Regions from separate parts of the Homo sapiens genome. Here region 2 is linked to region 1. Evidence: fine-mapped expression QTL. A gene starts in region 1. The other region holds a variant in brackets. All regions are shown on one strand. Distances are from middle to middle.

What was found.
Region 2: its variant is fine-mapped to the expression of FALEC in iPS cells (iPSCORE, PIP 0.95).

What each region holds. Positions count from the first base shown.
Region 1 is chr1:150,514,114-150,517,025 of GRCh38, reverse strand. It overlaps FALEC (focally amplified lncRNA regulator of ECM1), which reads right to left and starts at 1,274. Exons shown (of 6, transcript NR_186305.1): 1 at 964-1,274. RefSeq lists a silencer at 1,080-1,449 and enhancers at 1,540-1,689, 1,760-1,829.
Region 2 is chr1:150,883,785-150,886,696 of GRCh38, reverse strand. It overlaps a transcript of LOC107985204 not described here. Among named protein-coding and RNA genes, the nearest start is that of CTXND2, 1.9 kb to the left of the region's middle. RefSeq lists cis regulatory regions at 602, 2,367 and enhancers at 530-674, 2,295-2,439. The variant ATATTTTTT/T (reference allele first, on the strand shown) is at 1,321.

The sequences.
Region 1 (2,912 bases):
CGCCTGGCTAGGTATATTTAAATATACCACACTTTCTGTGTTATTTCCTCTTCCTGGAAGATCTCCCTGAAGGCCAGGCTAGGTGGCTGTCTCAGAATTCTGAGAATATTTCTAACATTAGATGTTCAAGTCTCCACAGACGCTAAAGTCCCTGAAGGTGGTGTTGTAGTCTTCGTTATAGCCAGAGTACTTTTAGCACTCTGCCTAACACAAAAAGGACTGTTTACTTTAGCTGAACTTTGCATACATTCAATGCTTTGTATATCCTTCCCTTTCAACAAAACCCTACTCAAGCTTGAATTCTGTGAAGCTTTCCCTGGCCTCTCCAATAATTAGGAGCTCTGACTCCTTTACTTTACTCACCGCCCCTGAATTGAGCAAGTTATATTTTAATAGTGTATACAACGAATTGCAGTGAATGTTAACACGTTCACCTTTTATTGCTAACAGCAATGCTACCCGTGCTTCCAGGCTCTATCCAAACTCACTGCTTCCAGATAATAGCTGGCTGGTCCCTAGGGAGAATTCTTTAACTCTCAGCATTTGATGCTCAATTCAGTACCTCCTCATATTCAGCACTGTAGCTTACAAGTGCTCTCCGGGTTCCCTTCCTCTCCTCCCCGACAGACTAAACTGCTAGGGTTTGGGACCGCAGTCCTCCTCTCCTCTGACTCCCACCTCTCTGCAGCATTTGGCGCTGCACTTTGCAAACGCAGCTCTAAAGCATCTCCGGGAAGCTCCTGCACAGACCAAAGCCCCCCCGCTCCCTTTTTTTTTTTGAGACAGAGTCTCCTCTCTCGCCCAGGCTGGAGTGCGGTGGCGCGATCTTACTGCAGCCTCCGCCTCCCGGGTTCAAGCAATTCTCTGCCTCAGCCTCCCGAGTAGCTGGGATTATAGGCGCCCGCCACCACGCCCTGCTAATTTTTTTTTTTTTTTGTATTTTTAGTACAGACGGGGTTTCACCTTCTTGGCCAGGCTGGTCTTGAACTCCTGACCTCGTGATCCACCGCCTCGGCCTCCCAAAGTGCTGGGATTCCAGGCATGAGCCACCGCGCCCGGCCCAAAGCCCTTTAAAGACAAGTCTCCGCTTGCGGATTCGCCCGCCAGGTGACAAGGCTTCGTGGGCCAGGACTCCGCCCGCTCCCCGTGGGCTGGGGCGACCCAGGCCAGGAGGGTACACGTGGGACCGGGGGGTAGGGGAATTGCTGGGCCGGCCTTTTCCCCCTGCCTCCCCCGGTTCCTCTGTCCTGGAGGCCGTAGGAGATGCGCAGGACGCCCGCACATGCGCAGTGTCACTCTCGAGCTCCAGACTCGAGCGCGGCGGGCAGGAGGCCCAGGCGGCCCCGGGCTCCCGAGACTGGGCTGCCGGCTCAGGGGCGGGGCACAGCGCTGCCCTCGCCCGCTCATTGGCTCGCGTGCTGACGGACAGGTGGGGCGGACAGCCGGCGAAAGATCTGAGGAGCCGCTGGACTGGAAACTGCTACTGGGCTAAAAATACTTAAGTAAATAAATGAAAGCCTGTGGAGGAGGAGAGGAAGGAGAGGCGGGCGTGGGTTTGGGAGCAACTGAGGCTCCGCTTGCCCCTGGCTGGCGCAGGATGATGGTTCTTGGTTCACTCTCTCCGTCTCCGCTAGAACTGGAGCGGAGAAGTCTGCTTTCTGGAAGGTCGTCCTGGCGGCGGAGTCACACAGGACTTGTTCCCCTGGGACTCTTCATTCCGAGTCTTCATTCCGATTCTTTCAGATCCAGCCTTGAGGCCTCGGGTTCCTGGGAGCAGCTTTGTAGGGCTTGAGAGTCCTAGTCACCGCCACCCTCGGGTCCAGCTCAGGTTGGGGGCTACAGCTCCGTCCCTCCGGCACTTGGGACGACACTCTTTGAACTGGCCTCCCAGCGTCCCGCCTTGCTGGCTGCCGACTAAACTTTTTTTTTTCTTTTTGAGACTGGGTCTCGCAGGTTGAAGTGCAGTGCCGAGACCATAGCTCTTTGGGTGGCTGGGATTACAGGCGCGCGCCACCTCCCCGGCTCTCCGACTAGACATTATTTTATTTTATTTTATTTTTGAGGCACAGTCTCGCTGTGTCGGCCAGGCTGAGTGCAGTGGTGCGATACTGGCTCACTGCAACCTCCACCTCCCAGGTTCAAGTGATTCTCGTGCCTCAGCCTCCCGAGTAGTTTGGATTATAGGTGGGCACCACCACGCCTGGCTAATTCAGTAAAGATGGGGTTTCACCATGTTGGTCGGGCTGATCTCGAACTCCTAACCTCAAGTGATCCGCCCGCCTCGGCCTTCCAAAATGCTGGGATTACAGCGTGAGCCAGTGCGTCCGGCCTAGACATTCTTAAAAGGCAAATTGGAACACATCCTCCGCTTGAAAACGCCAGTGCCCCCTGGGCCAGGGCACCAAGATCCACTTAAAACCCTGCGGGTGAGGCATTAGTGATGAGCTCCTGCTTATCATTCCAGCCATATCAGAGAGGAAGGCCACCAAAGAGTCAGGTCCTTTCAGCCTTGACCCTTGTGCGCACTCTGCCCGCTCACACCCTCTACTTCTTTACTGGAGAAACTCTGACCTCAACGCCCCTCCTGTGCACCTGTGCTGCCCCCAGCCCCACTCCCACCTCGGGACGTTCCTGTCATGCTCAGAGCACGCTGGGGGCCCTGTACCACAACACTTGTCACACCTGCTAGGCTCAGGGACAGTGAACAACCTCAGGGCAGGGGCTGTGTGTGTTCTGGATGTGTATCCCCAAGTCTAGCAGAGTGTGCATAGATAGGGGTTCAATAAATGGATATTGGCCAGGCACAGTGGCTCACGCCTGTAATCCCAGCACTTTGGGAGCCTGGCCAACATGGTGAAAACCCGTCTCTACTAAAAATACAAAAATTAGCTGGGTGTGCTGGTGCACGCCTG
Region 2 (2,912 bases), 370 kb before region 1:
CCCCGCCTCAGGTAAAAACTTCTAAGTAGGATCACATGAGTGGTAGAGGATGGATTGGTAGCCAACTTTTTGGTCTATGCAACAGGTCTCTGAATTACAGCATCTCCCAGGGACTTGCTAGAAATGCAAACTCTTGGACCCTTATCCTGGTCCTAATGAATAAGAAATTTTGGGGGTGTTGGCCTGTGTGTGTGTGTGTGTGTGTGTGTGTGTGTGTGTGTGTATTTAAGAGATGGGGTCTATGTTGCCCAGGCTGGAGTGCAGTGGCTATTCATAGGTGAATCACAGTGCACTACAGCCTCAAACTCCTGGGCTCAAGTGATCCTCCTGCCTCAGCCTCCCCAGTAGCCGGGACTACAGGCATGCACCACCACTTCCTGTGGCATTTGTGTTTTAACCAGCTTCTCTAGGTGATTGTGATGTATGCTTAAGTTTGGGAACTACTTGTCAACAGGATTAGTGATGCTTTAAAATGTTTTCCCCTCTTTCCTCAGAAGAATTTACTTGACACATTTGATTTAAAAAGTCAGGCCGGGCGCGGTGGCTCACGCTTGTAATCCCAGCACTTTGGGAGGCTGCGGCAGGCGGATCACGAGGTCAGGAAATCGAGACCATCCTGGCTAACACAGTGAGATCCGGTCTCTACTAAAAATACAAAAAATTAGCTGGGCGTGGTAGCGAGCACCTGTAGTCACAGCTACTCGGGAGGCTGAGGCAGGAGAATGGCGTGAACCTGGGAGGCGGAGCTTGCAGTGAGCCGAGATCGCGCCACTGCATTCCCGCCTGGGTGACAGAGCCAGACTCCATCTCACAAAAAAAAAAAAAAAAAAAAAAAAAAGTCATAACCGGGCCAGGCATGGTGGCTCACGCCAGTAAACCCAGCACTTTCGGAGGCTGAGGCAGGTGGATCACTTGAGGTCGGGAGTTAGAGACCAGCCTGGCCAACATTACAAAACCCCGTCTCTACTAAAAATACAAAAATTGGCCAGGTATGTTGGTGTGCGCCTGTGGTCCCAGCTACTTGGGAGGCAGAGGTTGCAGTGAGCCGAGATGGTGCCACTGCACTCCAGCCTGGGCGACGGAGCCAGACTCCATATCAAAAAAAAAAAAAAAAAATCTGCTTTATTCTTTTTAATGGCTGCTGAGTACTCAAGTAGTCCATTTTCTCTGTTGGTGGGCTTTTGTATTGTTTCAAATTTCTTATAGCAACATTGCAATAAATATCCGTGTTTGTGTGTGTATATATACATACACATATATACATACATACATATATATACACATACATATATATACATACATATATATATATATATATAT[ATATTTTTT/T]TTTTTTTTTTTTTTTTTTTTTTTTGAGATAGAGTCTCACTCTGTCACCCAGGCTGGAGTGACAGCCTTGTATATATATTTCTCTGGGCACTTGTGGAAATGTTTTTGTGGAATAAATTCCTCCAAATATTAAAAATATACATGCTAGGTTGTAGGATATGCACATTTGGAATTTTAATAGATATTACCAAATTACACACTAAACGGTTATAGTAATTTACACTCCAATCAAATAGGCATGAAAGTGCCTTTTCTTTTTTTTCATAGCTTCACCAATGTAAGTTACTCAGAGTCTCTGAAATATTTGTTGAGCTAATTGGTTAAAAACAATATCTCAGTTTTTAGGCTGGGAACGGTGGCTAACGCCTGTAATCCTAGCACTTTGGGAGGCCGAGGCGGGTGGATTACCTGAGGTCAGGAGTTCGAGACCAACCTGACCAACATGGTGAAACCCTGTCTCTACTAAAAATACAAAAAATTAGCCGGACATGGTGGTGTGCGCCTGTAATCCCAGCTACTTGGGTTGCTGAGGAAGGAGAATTGCTTGAACCCAGGAGGGTGAGGTTGCGGTGAGCTGAGATCGAGCCACTGCACTCCAGCCTGGGCAACAGAACAAGAAATTGAGACTCCATCTCAAGAAAAACAAAAACAAAAACAAAAACAAAAAAACCCCACAATATCTTTTTTGTTTTGTTTTGTTTTGTTTTTGATTTTTTGACACAGCGTCTTGCTCTGTCGCCCAGCCTGGAGTGCAGTGGTGTGATCTCGGCTCACTGCAACCTCCGCCTCTGGGGTTCAAGTGATTCTCCTGCCTCAGCTTCCTGAGTAACTGGGATTACAGGCGCACGCCACCATGCCCGGCTAATTTTTGTATTTTTAGTAGAGACGAGGTTTCACCATGTTGGTCAGGCTTTTCTCGAACTCCTGACCTCATGATCTGCCCGCCTCGGCCTCCCAAAGTGCTGGGATTACAGGTGTGAGCCACTGCGCCTGGCCCAATATCTCAGTTTTTTAAAGATTGCATTTCTCTAATTACTACAGTATTTGAATCTCTATTGATTTACATATTTTGCAGATACATACAAACCTATCTTCACCTTACCTATCCTTTTCCCTTTTGACTGAGCTATTAACCTTTTACTTATTGATTTGAAAATGTATATCTATCTACAAACATAAGTACACACAGATACATTTTTACACATTTTTTACTTATTAATAACTTTTTTGTGATACATGTGGTTCCCAGTGCCTATCCTCTGACTCCAACTCTCTCACTTTTGAATTTGCTATCAACATCAGCTTCCAGAATTAAACCTCTCTTCTCAGTCCAATAACTTCTGGCTTCATTTGCTTCCCAGACCAGTCTCATCCCCTTTCAGATATTTTTAAACTAGGGTCTTCTGCAATTCTAGAATCTTCCATCTTCAAGATACTGATCAGTTCATCATCTCTCCAATTGTGGGTAAACTGTTCACTTTCTTTCCTCAGGTTTCTGAGTATTGACAGAAATTACAATGCTCCATAGTTTCATGAAAATTTATGCTTTCTAACTTTGTCTAGCTCCCCAGAGCATTTGGTGAT